3 separate regions of the Homo sapiens genome follow, and regions 1 and 3 are each linked to region 2. Evidence: fine-mapped expression QTL. A gene starts in region 2. Each other region holds a variant in brackets. All regions are shown on one strand. Distances are between the middles of the regions. Region 1 overlaps ITGBL1 (integrin subunit beta like 1). Region 2 holds the start of NALCN (sodium leak channel, non-selective). Region 3 overlaps NALCN (sodium leak channel, non-selective).

Region 1 (5,232 bases), 52 kb before region 2:
ATAAATTAATTTCACTGAATATTTGAATATCCCTTCTAAATCCTACTGATGGTATTACTGCTGTGAGCTCCTCACTCACTCCCACCATGCAGAGCAGAGATATCTGGCTTGGGCCTGTGGCTCCTTTTGCCCAGTGATGTTTGGATATAAAGTGCATGTTATTGGTTCAGAGTCAAAGATTTAAGAGATCTCAAGTATTTCGTCTCACTTTCTAGTGCTCCTGTGATCCACAATACCGAAAACGTAGCTTGGGTAGCATAAAAATAACGTGCAGCAGAATGCAGCCAGCCTTCAGCCTGAAGTCCAGGCTTGCCTAGCTGAGTTGTAGCTCATTTGCACACCCAAGAGTGAGAAATATATATACACACACACACACACACACACACACACACACACACATACATACACACACACACACACATATATATTTGTGTTGCCTTTCTGTAAGCCACTAAATGTTGTGGTGGTCTGTAATGAAGCATTCTTGAAGCAATAACAACAAAGACCTAAGAGAAAATCTTACAGAAAATCAGATACTATTCCTGCCCTTGAGGAGTATATAATTTAATCATAGTGACATGGGAATGGCCTGATAATACTGATAACAAAAAGAAGTTGCTGTTGAGGATTTATTACCTGCAAGGGAGTTTTCTCAATAATAACACTATGATAAGAGGAAACAGAGGCACAAGCAAATCAACTAACTTCCCAAAATCGAGCCAGTTTTGGAACCCATATAGTCTTTCTCCTTCAATCTCCTCAGCATTCTCCCTCTCACACTTTCACATATGAAAATGACATTTAATTATGGTAGATTAATAATGCATGTGATAATTCAAAATTCAGAAAAGAGATTTAATACTTCTTGGGGCATTTGTTAGCCAGTGTCACTGTACTAAATGGTGTAACTTAATAACAAAGTGACTGATTGCACAGTTTTTATTTCAGACAACATGTGATCTTAAACATTTTATTTAATCTTTTTGAGGCTCATGCTTTTATCTTTAGAATGGTAAGATGATATTTGTTTATTGGGAGAATTTAACACCACACAAGAAGGATGTAGCAATTCTAAATAAATGTTAGCTGTATTATCATTACCTTATTTCAAATTAAGAATAAGCATATAGGATGATTATAATTAAATAGATTTTTAAGGGCACCCCATAGAATGTTGTCCTACTAGAAAAGGAATTTTTTTCCAGACTATTGCTATTCTCTTCTAAACACCACCCCTCCACCCCTCCCACACACACCTCATTCATTAGTTGTTCTTCAAAGTCATGGCTCTCTTGCTAGGTTGCCTAGTTGACTTTCATATAAAGGGCAGCAGAGACTATTATGGTTTTTGATAACTATACACCCAGAGGGTAAATGTTGAGATGCACACAAATATCATTATTTCATTGTGCTTTAACAGACTGTGTGCATATAGTTGGGGAATTAAAGACAAACACCACGTCTACTTTATAAAATAGTAATGCATAGGCAGGAGAATCACTGGAACCCAGGAGGTGGAGTTTGCAGTGAGCCGAGATCGCGCCACTGCACTCCAGCCTGGGTGACAGAGCGAGACTCCATCTCAAAAAAAAAAAATAAATTAATTAAAAAAGGAATAAAATAGTAATGCCTATATTATACTATCTTTCAAGCACTGGACATGCATTAAATAATTATTTATGGATATGAAAGTTCTTAAATCCTCAAGGAAAGCAGAGCTTCCAAGGTTAGCTAAGGTAACAGAATATTTCGTTTTGCAGTCAACTGTAAGAAAACAAATTCTTTCCACCCTCTTATCAAATCTACAGTAACTGGAGATCCAGCTCCTGTTGCCATCTGATGGCTGAAATCTCACAGCTAATGAGGCTAGGTCTGATCATAAGATTTCCCTGTTCTTCTCTAGACATCCTTCTGGAGATGTTTAATAAGTGCCTTTTGAATTTAACTGAACTGAGGCTCAGAGAAGTTACGTGATTTGTGCAAGATCACACAGGCAGCAACAATAGCGGAGAAAGATCAAACAGCTTTGTTTTTTAATTCCAATTCCCAAGCATTTTCCAGAGCATTCTGCCTCTGCATTTTCATCCTACCCAAACCTGCCTGCTTAGTTTTCCCAAGGAAAAGATTGTTAAATTCAGTAAAGACTGTACTATCTTTTAATAAAAGATCAGCGCATTGCCACTCATAGGTCTTAAAATACAACATCTGTTTTTGTGGTGTTTTTTGTTTTTGTTTTTTTATAGATGGAAAGATGGAGTTTCACTCTTGTCACCCAGGCTGGAGTACA[A/G]TGGTGTGATCTCAGCTCACTGCAACCTCCACCTCCCGGTTTCAAGCAATTATCCTGTCTCAGCCTCCCAAGTAGCTGGGATTACAGGCACCCACCACCATGCCCAGCTAATTTTTGTATTTTTAGTAGAGACAGGGTTTCACCCATGTTGGCCAGGCTGGTCTCGAACTCGTGACCTCAGGTGATCCACCTGCCTCGGCCTCCCTAAGTGCTGGGACTACAGGCATGAGCCACAGCGCCTGGCAACAACTGGTGTATTAACAGGGATATTTGAAATATTGAAAGACCACAATATCCAGAATCCCAGGTAGGCAGGATGTCCCCATAAGCCTTCATATTATGACCCACGGTCCACCCATTCATTTCCAAGATGCAAAGTGAACCTACATGATGATCCATTCAAAACTGTTCAGCTTTCTGTAAATGCCTTTCTTCTCTCTCTTTGCAGTATTGTTGGCTCGCATAGCTTTGATCTCAAAAAGGCTATACGTATATTAAAACCTGCATGTGTTTAAATTTTTGGAGCTCACTTTATGAAATGTAATGTTATAAGAACAAAAGAGAATCTCTGATGTGACTTATTCGTAATAGCCAAAATATGTAATACACAAAATAATGTAAGGTAATGCCCAAGGAAATAACAAATATGTAGATTCAACTCTCCTACCTACCTTTTCTTTCACTTTTATAGACAAGAAAAATTAGGTTATGGAGGAGTTCCTTCAAAGGCTGACTCAGGAGGATCCTTCTTATTTGGATATGGTTGATGTTAAATGCAATCTCTCTAAAAACTTCAACTACAGCTGAGAAAATGCTCATTATCAGTACGACAAGTAATTTTGTCCCAGTGATTTCGGCTATCTCACTTTCTTTAACATGAGATGCATAACGGGTTCTTTTGCCCAGTACTTTCTTACCATTTGAGCTTTTACATGCACTCTCTAAGACAAAAATAAGAATCAAAATCTACTTTTCCAAAAAGAAGTTATATTTTTAAATGTAAATAAAGTTTCTGAAAATTATGTTTTTCTTTCAGTACTCCAAAATTCATGAAGAAATTATCCCTACATATGTGCTTTTAGGATAATTTTACTATAATGCTGAAGAAAACCCTTCTATTGATTTGGGGTGGGAGGAATTTCTCCTCAGGCTTACTTAGCACAATAGTTGGAGGATAATTGTTTTGACTATCTCTTAAAAGTTATTATAAAAAGTGAATGAATTCATATGTATGAAAATATTTTCCAGCATACTATACTCAAATATAGGTAGATACTACTCTTACTCATTTGTATTTCTAATGTAGCATTAATTTCAAGGCTTAAAATTATCCAAACAGGCAACTGAGAGAAGTCTCTCGAGCACATAGTTAACAAATCAAATACTTTCTTTCTTGAAGCAAGTGAATTATTTCCATGTCAAGACAGCTCTTAGAGCTCATATAACTAATGGTGTTGCCCAGGAAAGAAAAGAAAATAGTCTATAACTTGTCTTTTGTATTTTGGAGAGGAAACTGCTTAAATGGCCAAGTCACTTTGTTTATAAAAATAACTAGTTTTGTCTAACTATTTTGCTCAGCAGAAAATGATAGCTTTGAAAAAGCAGTAATGAACAATTAGGAAATGCATTTACCACGTTTTCATTTTCTGATTTTGGCTCCTTACTCTACCCCATTGACTAAGTCATGAATTTACAGTTAATACCTTGCCGTAAGAGAAGTTTTTAAGCAATGCCCAAACTCATTGACCTCTTTTAAAAAAAAAAATTTAGCCTACCTTTCCCTAGGAAGTTTCCAGATAAAATAACAGAACAGGAAACTAGAGTGGGTAGGTATTCACTTTAAATAATTCGGTGTTTGAACTAGTGACTATGTACAAACAATTACAACGATAGGGCTCTTGGTACAGGGACTGATTTTATCGTATAACCTAAGAGTGGGGTTGTACAAAGTCAAATCAGTAAGCACCCTTATAAAAGTCTTATTTTTCTTTTCTCTTTATAAAGCCCTCATTCTTCTACCCAGCCTTAAGTAAGATGATTTAGAGTAGACAGGAGAATGACTTCTATTACAAAATATAGTTTCTTATTTGCCAGGAAATGTGATTCTTGGAAAGACAAAGCACTCCTTTTCCAAAGAAAATGAGATTTGCAACCCCCATGCAGCTCTCTATCTTTATCAATTTAGAAGTTATTAGAAAATAGCTTGAGAATTTACCCACGTAGAGTCCCAAAAACGCCCTGGTAAATTCCCCTGATACTCTCAGTCTAGCTGTACCAGACTTTTCCACCTTCTTAGATGTGACTCTTGCCTTTAAATCTCAGACCAGGTTTGGAAGCTAAATTTCCCAAAGGACAAAGGCTTCAATATCCCCGTCCCACTGATGTGAGGTTTCCCTTTGCCAAGGTCAGCTAGTAGACCGGCTGCTATGATATAAATATTGACCCATATTTTGGAACCTAATCCCCAACGTGACAGTATTAAGAAGGTGGGTGGGCCTGCAGGAGGTGATTAGGTCATGAGCACTCCAGGCTCATTAGTGGGATTAGTGCCCTTATAAAAGAGGCTTGGGGGAGCCTGTTTACCCCTTCCAACATGTGAGGATACAGTTGCCATCCAGGAAGCTGAAAATGAGCCCTCACCATACACTGAATCTGTTGGCACCTTGATTCTAGACTTCCCAGCCTCCAGAACTGTGAGCATTAAATTTGTCCTGTTTCTAAATTACTCAGTCTAGGGTATCTTGTTACAGCAGCCTGAATGGACTAAACCATCTACCCTGCAACAAATTCTAAAGGAGTCCTTCCTTCGGGTTGACATAAAAGGACACTAGACAGTAATTCAAAACCATACAAAGCAGAGCTCCAGGAAAGATCGATCTGTACTGTTTACTCAGAACTGTGCTAAATACCTATTTTTTGTGCTAAATATTTTTGTTTTTAGTTTC
Region 2 (5,232 bases):
GCTGGGGAGGCCTCACAGTCATGGTGGAAGGCGAAAGGCACGTCTTACACGGCAGCAGACGAGAGAAAATGAAGACCAAGAGAAAGGGCCTTATAAAACCATCAGATCCCATGAGACTTATTCACTACCACAAGAACAGTATGGGGGAAACTGCCCCCATGATTCAATTATCTCCCACCAGGTCCCTCCTACAACACATGGGAATTGTGGGAGCTACAATTCAAGATGAGATTTGGATGGGGACACAGACAAATGATATCACATCCATTCCAAAGCACTTGCAGGACCATGAACACAATTTCATTTAAACCAAAGGCTACTACTATCTTGGTTGTGCATTGGCTTGGCTTCATCCTCTTTATTGTAAAACTTTCTGTATTGACTGCTTTCTCTGTGTTTGACATTATCCTTTCCCCAATCTCATACCGTCAAATACAGATTTAATTGTATAGGCTCCTACATGCAAACACCTTCCAGGGCCAGGAATTGAAGCAGGCTGGGGACATGGAGGCAAATGGGAAGTATATGCCCACCTATGGGAGGCACAGGATGCCCCTATTGGCCCCCTACCACTTGGGAATGCAGAACTGACCTGGCCAGATCTTCCTTCCTTTTTTTTTTTTCAAGACGGAGTCTCACTCTATCACCCAACCAAGCTGGAGTGCAGTGGCACAATCTCAGCTCACCACAACCTCTGCCTCCCCAGTTCAAGTGATTGTCATGCCTCAGACTCCTACAGGTATGGTGGCTTACGCCTGTAATCCCAGCACTTTGGGAGGCCAAGGTGGGTGGATCACCTGAGGTCAGGAGTTCGAGTCCAGCCTGGCCAACATGGCAAAACCCCGTCTCTACTAAAAATACAAAAATTAGCTGGGCATGGTGGAGGCTGCCTGTTATCCATATCTTCCTATTTTTCCTGATAAAATAAAATTCTTGTGGTTTTCAAATGTTGGTAATTGATCTTAATTTGTCAACAATATACATTGAGTCATACAAAACACACCTGAATTATATTCTCAGTTTATATTGAACCCACAGGCCAGCAATTGACTTTTACTGGATTCCAGCAATGAATGTAGTTACAGGGCCAATTCAACCTGGAAAAGATATTTGTTCATCCTTTCTACTTTTGCTTTGAGGATGCAGTGAGCTATAATCACATCAATGCACTCCAGGCTAGGCAACGGAGATAGGCCTTGTCTCTAAAAATAACAAAGAAAACAAAAGAAGAGAGATACTGAGCAGGTAGAAGGGGTACTATGATATTTTGGATGTACCTGTTTTTTAAAATGATTGTCTACTCCAATACACAGTGAATCCCTATGCATTATAGGATGAGTGTGCTGGATTCCATGACTTCCTTGAAGCCCATGAATTCTCTGAGACTGTCTCCATCATCATTGGGATTGTTTGGCTCATGAGCATGAATTATAGAGACTTAACAGAGGTAGTTCAACCAAGGACAGAGAAAGGTCTGAAATGCCTGTTGGGTGAGGAGTGGCACTGAGATTAGTAAAAAATCACTGCCTTGACCACTTCAAAACATTATAAATAAATGTTTAAATATTTCCTTAATATAATTTACTAACAGATAATTCGAACGAATGTCAAGGAATAACACACTATCATTCAGCTACCATATATATATAGCTATATATTTCAGTTTGTGAAATAAACTAGTATTTAGAACAAGCAATTGAAAGCCGCAAATAAAGATGATGAAACAAGTTGGTAAATACTTTTTCTAAGCAAACTGGTTGTAGATTTAGCATTGTTTAAATTACTGTCAATTTTTTCTTATGAGGAGTGATTTCATCATTTGTTTAAAACCTGGCTTTTGACACAGTTTTTCTGAAGTCTTTAGAAATTTGAAAAATTATCTCGCATGACTCTGTATTTCATGAAATACCAATATTTTAACATTTCCCTGTAAACAATAAAACGTACTAATATGGATTATGAATGTGAACAAATTGTGAATGGACTTTTTAAGAAAGTAGATTAATTAAATATCTGTAACCAGAAAATACATTTTTAAAATGTAGGTTTGTGTAGTTTTACTTCTATACCTTGCCACATAACATTTTGTGATAGACAAATGCTCTTTGTTTAGAATTTCTCTTGTAGAGAAAGCTTCATTCAGTTGTTTCTTTCCCTTTATTTATATGCCTGTGTGCATGATGTCTAAATCACTGGTCAGGAGTTCCCTGGGGATTTTCGTATCTGACTACATGGCAAGATTCCAGACCCAAAGTAAACCTTTCAGAGAGTGGGAATGAGTGGGAGGATGTCGCCCTGGGCATGGTGCTTAGGAGGCCAGATTTCCCTAAACCTGCTCTGCTGGGAGCCCTAGGAAGCCTCAGATGCAGTCTGCTGTCCAGGTATACTCACAGGGTATGGGGTGGGGGACTGTCAATTTCTGAATAGACTTTGTCTCATCCACACGACAACATATTTTAATTTTAAAGGCGAACGTCAACCTATTTAGAAAACTATAAGTGTGACTGATGCATTCATTATTTAATAACTCCGGGGTGAAACTTGAGGTGAACGGTTTCACCCTTTCATACTCAGGAATGGAACTAGTCCTCGGTACCGTGCACAGTCTGACCTCACGCTCGCACGCTGGGCTCCCGGCCTCCTGGCAGTGCACTTAAGTGTACCCCGCGTGTGCCCGGCGGACTCCCGTGCACACCGCCGCCGTGCTGTTGAGTACGAAAGACCCCCGAGAGGAGCTCGCAGATGAGAGCCTAGCTGTTGCTGTGAGACTGACTGCGGGTGGCAGCCGGCAAGAAGGAACTGCCAGTACCGACCCTGGCGCTCCCCACCAACTGCGGCGCAGCCTCCTCTGCGGTGCCCGCCCTTCGGCATCACTGCAGTCCCTGTAGCAAAGCTAACTTTAAAAATTTAAATAAAATAATAATTTTTTAAAGGCCCGAAAACTCCGGCTCCCACCCCTCCCCCAGCCTGCCCGGCGGCGGCGGCGCTCAGTGAGTGACACGGCGAGCGTGAGCCGCGGCCCCAGCCGGGCCGAGCGCGCTGCCTGAGCTGAGCCGCCGTAGGTGAGGGGCCCGCGTCCCCGCCCGCCCTGGGCGCCGCGCCTGGCACTGATCCTGCCGGTCGCCCACTGTCGCCGCCGCCGCCGCCCGCGGGCACCATGACAGCTCTGAGCGCTGGGGTTACAGGTTGGTCACCGCCGCCGGTGCCCGGGAGGCTGCGGCGCGGCCGGCTCCGTGCCCTGCGCCCGAGGCCCGCGATGCGCGCTCGTTAGTTCCTTGGCCGGTCCGGGCCAGGACGGCTCAGGGGCGCTGGGGCTGCGAGAGGGGCTGCTAGAGGGGCTGCGGGCGGGGGCCCCGCGCGGGGGAGGGGTGGGGAGGGGCGCCTCCACCCGAGAGCGGGGCGGTGGGGTCCTTGCCGGCCTGGCCGGGGCGCGGGAGCCGCGATGCGCCCTCCCTATTCCTGCGCGTGGGTGTCGGGGGCGCCTGCCGCGGGATGCCCCTGGGCTGGCTTGGGAAGCCCAGGGCCGGCGACACCTCGGGCCTGCCCCGCCTGGGCATCTAGCAGGTGTTGGGGGGCAGGTGGCTGAGGACGAGGCCACTGGGCATCACTACAGCGCTGCACCTGCCCCCTCGGCACCAGGGCCGCTGCCTGGGTAAACCTCTGGGCCAACGCGCGGGTGGGGAGGTGGGGGTGGGCAGCCTGGCTCCAGCAGGTCTCCGCGGGGGCTCCGCGGCCTTGCCCCACCCCCATGCTCCTGTGGATTGCTCCTTGCTAAATGTCCCTTATGATATTCATTGGCCTTGTTAAGCAGCCGTCATTAGGGTGGCTACACCGAACGCAAAACAGTGTCCTGCCAAGCAACACCATTTTGTCACTGAATCTTTAAGACACCAGCAAGGATGGCCTGGCTGGGATCCCTCTGGGGGCCCAGATCGCAGTCATTTTGCTGACTTAATGTTCCTCTTTCAGGATGGTGTGAGAATGCTGAACTCAGACCCTTAGTGCTTGAAATACCTTAGAATAAATCTTTCAGTTTCAGGTACAATTTTTCAGACACTGTATTATTAAGGATGTGTGAATACACGCTCACTTTCAGGCCTCAGAAGGTTTTACTCTTAATCTGGTGTTCGTGTGGTCATCAGCTAGGCCCGACTGCCCTGGTGGTGAAATGTGGGTTGAGGACCAGTGACCTTCGTGTTAGTAGTTGGTGGATAACACCTCTAATAGGGGATCAAAAATTAACAGGTGGCGATTTTGAAATATATATGTATGTATATATATATATATATGTGTGTGATTTGTATGTTCATAACTACAACTGTGATTTGATATGGCCTGGGAGAGGAGCGGTTTCACTATGGTAGTTACCCCTGAGGCAGATGCATCTCAGGACTGGCTTTTTAAATTCAAAGATAAGGTTTCCACAGTTCTAAATAAAAATCATGGCTTCCCAAACATCTGCAACGAGAAACATTTACTCCCTAACTGGTTGGCTGTCATTCTGCGTGCTTTTCTAGAGTCGATTTTTCGTTCTTCTGTAGTATACTTTGACCTAGCCACTGCTAAAACCAGACAGTGTGAAGACAAAATCCAGCTTTGGAGAAAAACTTAAAAAGTGAAAAGGTTCAGTTGGATCCTCTTCTGTGTTCATAGAAGACATAATCTGTTTGCAGAATAAATGTGCCGTCACTGATAAGGACTATGCTAAAATCTCTACAGAACTCTAGGAGAAAGCATGTCTTATAAAATAGTGGTTGTACACTTATAACTTTGGATAGGACTTGCAAGATATTCAAAGGAGAAATGTACTTAAAAAATGTACTTAAAAAAAGTCTACTCAAAATAGTGTCATTTAGTTGCAATTTAGTGAACTGAAGATTTGAGTAGCATTTTCTTCTTCTTGGGTATGGCATTTCTTTGAAATGGTTTCCAGGTGATTTTATCATTCCGGCATGCTTTGTGTGTGCATGTATGTGTATACACAAATGTACACATTTGTTTTATCATTTATCGATGATGTTCAGATAATTTCAGAATTTCCATAGCTGTATAAATTTATCCCAGGTCAGAGTCACATGTGGATTTCAAGTTTGTGAATGAAAATTCACATCTACACCTCTATATCCTAAGATAAGCTAAGCACTGGGCCAGAAGCTGGGTGGTGAGTGAGAAAAAGAGATAAACTGAGAGCCTAAGAATCCTTCAGGAAAGACAAATATGTAAGCAGGTGGA
Region 3 (5,232 bases), 87 kb after region 2:
CTAGGCATGGATTTTTATTTTTTATCTACTGTGAACTCATTCTCTGCATATGAGACTCATGCCTTTCTTCAATTCTGGAAGGTTTTTAGGTATTATCTTCTCAAAACAGCTCTCTTCTCCATTCTCTCTATTCTTTGTTTTCTGGAATACTGATTAATATTTGTTTTTATCATATTTTTTATTCTATCCTCCATGTCTTTAAATCGTGCTTTCTAACTTCCCTCTATTTTCTTGACTTCTCTTGTTACCACACAATGGGCGGGTTCAGTTGCTTGGCAGGTGGGAGTCCAATGACCACAACCAAGGAGGATTTAACCAAGGGATTTCATTACTGGCAACAAGTAAGTAGAACACTGGGGATAGTTCCCAAAGCAGTGCCTCCCCAGACACAGGTGGAAACAGGGCTTTGTGGGGGCTGCTTAGCTGAGTCACTGTGTGCAGAGGTGGAGTGCAGGCAGGCACAGCTGTTGTTCATGCTTCTTCATATGTTGCCCATACAGAAAATGGCACATAAGCTCTTCCCTGGGCAGGGCATTTAGTATGGTAAGGTGAAGAGGTCTCCAAAGTTCATCTCCAGCTCAGGCATCCCCGGATGCCTGGGACCAGTTTTTTGTGTTTGTTCTTTGTTTTGCAGGGGCTCGGCTTCTTCCTAGAACACTTTTAAACAACGGAAACTCAAGGTGCAACAGTTAAAAGTGGATAGTTCTTCACAGTGTGTACCCAAAAACCCAGGGACCCTGGGTTACACTCTTGATCCTTGATTAGTTGCACAAGGAATCTTCTATCATTCTCTGTCCCTCCAAGAGTTGTTTACGTATTTTCAAGCTCAAATTCTTTGCTGAACTCTTAATTTTCTCTCAGTGTGTCTAGACTGCTATTTATTTATCGAATTTTCAATTCCAACATCTATAATTTTTATACCTAATATTTCTATCTAATTCTGTTTCAAACCTGCCTGTTCTTTTATCTTAGATTCCTGTTCTTGCTGTTTTCTTTCTAATCTTTTCTTCATCTCACCAAACATTTTAAACATGCTTATTTTAGAATTTGTTTCTAATGCTTCCATATTTTCTAACTCTCCTTTACAATAGTTCATTTTCTTGTGTGGTTTATAATATTGGCTATGAGCTCATTTCCACTGGCTATGAGCTCATTTTTCAGGGGTACTCTGGCCTGAACTGTGACTGGGGTTGTGTTTGCTGCAGTTTCATGGATATCAGCCGTTCTTACTGATACTCGTGTTACTTTTGTGGCTTAAAGAATATATTAATGTGTTCTCATGCTGCTAATAAAGACATACTTGAGACTGGGTAATTTATAAAGAAAAAGATTTAATAGATTCACAGTTCCACATGGCTGGGGAGGCCTCACAATCATGGCACAAGGTGAAGAAGTAAAGGTATGTCTTACTTGGTGGCAGGCACATCTTACATGGGGGCAGGCAAGAGAGCCTGTGCAGGGAAACTGCCCTTTATAAAACCGTCAGATCTTGTGAGGCTTATTCACCATCATGAGAACAGCACAGGAAAGACTCGCCCCCATGATTCAATTACCTCCCACTGAATCCCTCCCAGGACACATGGGGATTATTATGGGAGCTACAATTCAAGATGACATTTGGGTGGAAACACAGCTAAACCATATCAGGGAAGGAGAGGTCCTTGAACTATTTGCATTATGGGGGCACTGTAAAATTAGACTACACACTTCAGTTGGCCCAGGTCTGGATTCTGATTTCTCTGAGGAGACTCTTTTGCCCCGCATGGATCTGGACAGAAGTCAAGCAACATTCTGCTTTTTTCTGAGCTGGAGGCCAGGGTTCTTCCAGTCCAGATAAAATGCAGAACAATCCTTTGTAACACCCAGCTTTGTAGAGACACCTCAGCTCCAACTTACTGTCTTATATTAGGTGCCTCCCAACTCCTCTCTCTATTGGGACCCAGAAGCCCTGAAGATTTATATTGACTCCAAGTACATCTGTGAACCATTTGGCTTCAGCTGCTGCTCACAGCTCTGATTTTATATTCTCCCAAACTCTCTGACCGCTGGATAGTTTGCTCATGTAGCTTTGAGATAATTTATACATTCAAAACTTACTCTCTTTTATCTATTTCCTTGTGTTGATTTGGCATAGGGTGAGGAGGGTAAGGGAAAAAGGTGTCTAAATAAGCATAGTCCAACACATTGACCTAAAGCCCATATATATATATGCTGCTAATAACATTATATATATGTATATATATATTATATATAATTTTTTTTGAAACAGTCTCTCTCTGTCACCCAGGCTGGAGTGCAGTGGCATGATCTCAGCTCACTGCAGCCTCCTCCTCCCGGGTTCAAGCAATTCTCATGCCTCAGCCTCCCAAGTAGCTGGGACTACAGGCGTGAGCCACCACGCCCGGCTAATTTTTATATTTTTAGTAGAGACAGGGTTTCACCATTTCGGCCAGGCTGGTTTAGAACTCCTGACCTCAGGTGATCTGCCCACCTCAGCCTCCCAAAGTGCAGAGATTACAGGTGTGAGCCACTGTGTCCAGCCTATGTTTTTATATTTTTAGGATTCCCATGTAATGATGCAATTTTCCTTTCTTTGATATGATGCATCTATGATTTTATATTCTAAATGTATTTTTATACTTATATATAAAATGCATTTT[A/G]TTAATTAAGCATTAGTTCTTAAAAGTTGGTATTTCCTTGAACTTTTAATTTTACAAATATTCCATTTCGGTGTTATTATTTTTAGTATTTTTTTGCTGCTGAATAGTTATGCCAACCTCTGTGCAGCCTGGGAAGACAACACATCAGCAGTCAATTTGTGTAAAGACAAAATAATATTAGAGAGCAAGAGAATGAGACAAGACTGCAAATCAGCAATAATAATTATTGAGTACTGAGAACAATTCCAGTGGATTAAGATTTGGGATGCTTAAGCTTCTTAATATTAATTGCAGCAAATATTCAAATGCTTTCACTTTCCATATAAGTACTTCAGCAAATAAGCAAAATATGAAATAAAAACCCTAATTCAGAATTACCTAAATATAAAACAAGTAAATTGTCCTAGGCAATTCTTACCATCTTATGTCCAGTAAAACAATAACCTATATTTGTGCATACAGATATATTATCTCATTTAAAAACTAGCGGTGATTGTAAATCTTGACACCAAATTGAAGTTGAACTGAAAGAGGCTTTCCTGTAAAGATACTTAGGATCCTTACATTGTATGTAAGGAAAGTCACCTAGTCCTCACATCAACCCCAGGTGTGACATGTTATTAACTTATTCTAATGGTACAGATGTTGAGATGCAGAGAACAGAAGCAGCTCTTAGGGGACAGAGACAGGGCTCAGTGATGATTATATTCACCTGTCATGGGGTAGAGCTACAATAGTGAGTATTCTGTGGATGGTCCTATCCAGATAAAAGAAGGAATTGGTTTCAGGACATAGTCTGCATCTTACTAGGTGGGGAATGTTGGACAAGTTACTTAACCTCTTCTGCCCTGTAAAATAGGGATAAAAATGGTACATATCACAGAGTGTCATAGGAAGACTAAAGTAGACTATTCTCATCCTCACACCTAATGAGTTCTCAATATTTAACTGATTATAATTATCTTTACTAGATACATAATTAAGTAAATAAATTAAGGAATTATAGAGCAAATAGTCATAGGGTCACACAGATAGAAAGTGGGAAAAATAGGAGACAAACCTATGTCTATATTCATTCCATGGCATTAGATTTAGATTGCCTCCTTTTAGTCTGGCAAAACACTCATGATTATACAATGTAATTTAAAAATATACAGTACTTTGCTGGGTGTGGTGGTGCATGCCTGTGGTCCCAGCTACTTGGGAGGCTGAGGTGGGAGGATGGCTTAAGCCTGGGAAGCAGAGGTTGCAATGAGCCGAGATCACGCCACCGCACTCTAGCCTGGGCTGTAGAACGAGATACTGTCTCAAAAAAGAAAAAAAAATACAGTACTCACATTTTACTTTGCTAGTATATGCTGTATTCACTGGTGTATGCTCTCTTGCATGGAGACTTTCATTGGGAATAAAATGTTTGAAACTATTTTACTATTTCTTGCACTGCTTTGAGATACTACCAGCAAAGCTATTTCTAAGCTGAGACGCTATGTCCTGGCAGGACTTCTAAAGACTTAAAGCAATGCTGTAGCTGTGTATTTACAACTGACTAGAGCAGGGATCAGCAAACCATGGCCAGTGGGTCAAATCCTGCTTACTGCCAGTTTTTGTAAACAAAGTTTTATCGCAACTCCCTGCCCATTTGTTTAGACATGGTCTGTGGCTGCTTTTCTCCAACAGCAGAAAAGTTCAGTAGTTCCAACAGAAACCCTGAGGCCCATAAAGCCTAAAATGTTTACCATCTGGCCATTTACGGAAAGTTAGCCAACCCCCAGACTAGAATAAAGGTAGGAAAAACCACTCAGCCCAAGCTTCTTTTTTGATTCTATCTTCCCACAGCTGCCTAGAATCCTTTGCAGTCTTTATCCTAGGAGGCTCAGAGGCTATAACACATCTCTAATTTTGTCTAGATTTGTGAGAATCCATTTCTCACAAATCCAGTTCTGGCCCTCTTTCCCTGACTCGATGTTCCTTGAACTCTAAACATGAATTTTTAAAAGAAGGATTACCTGGGATGGGTATATCCCTGAAAGTCACCTCCTTTCTGCTGCCTCTCACAAATACACAGGCTATGTGCCTTAAACCTGTCATTCACTTTAAGGAATTTTTGAAAAGTGGATAATAGGTTAGACATAAAATTCACTGAATCTGGGTTAAATTTAATCAGTGAGTATTCTTTAGAATGGAAGCATGAGCCTGAATGATTAAAGAAATTGCTTAAAAAATTAGAATCAAAATACTAAATATCATCCCCCCCAATGTTTTAGCTAGAAAAATTACTTGAAAATGAGCCAGAGAAGGAGAAAAATAATTATCTTACAGAAAACTAATAAAAATACAATAAACTATCATTTATTTAAATACAATAAACTATCATTTGTTAAAATACAATAAACATGCAAAAGCGCTATCATTGATAGCACTTTTAATGTTTAAATAACCCACTGATTACTTTCTCTAGTGGATTATTTGCAAGGGTAGAGTAAGAATCGTCGCTTCTCTGGACACATAACCCATTTGCCATGTGACATTGCCTCCCTTCCACCAAGAAGTGGAATGTATTTTTCCTCCCCTT

The links. PIP is the estimated chance that this variant, and not a neighbour inherited with it, causes the effect.
Region 1: its variant is the best candidate, but not a certain one, in a credible set for the expression of NALCN in tibial nerve (GTEx, PIP 0.52).
Region 3: its variant is the best candidate, but not a certain one, in a credible set for the expression of NALCN in lung (TOPMed, PIP 0.51).

What each region holds. Positions count from the first base shown.
Region 1 is chr13:101,466,700-101,471,931 of GRCh38, reverse strand. All of the region lies in intron 2 of ITGBL1 (integrin subunit beta like 1), which reads right to left. Among named protein-coding and RNA genes, the nearest start is that of ITGBL1, 17 kb to the right of the region's middle. The variant A/G (reference allele first, on the strand shown) is at 2,288.
Region 2 is chr13:101,414,266-101,419,497 of GRCh38, reverse strand. NALCN (sodium leak channel, non-selective) reads left to right here and starts at 2,990. Exons shown (of 44, transcript NM_052867.4): 1 at 2,990-3,185. RefSeq lists enhancers at 3,088-3,638, 3,639-4,189.
Region 3 is chr13:101,327,067-101,332,298 of GRCh38, reverse strand. All of the region lies in intron 7 of NALCN (sodium leak channel, non-selective), which reads left to right. Among named protein-coding and RNA genes, the nearest start is that of NALCN, 87 kb to the left of the region's middle. The variant A/G (reference allele first, on the strand shown) is at 2,661.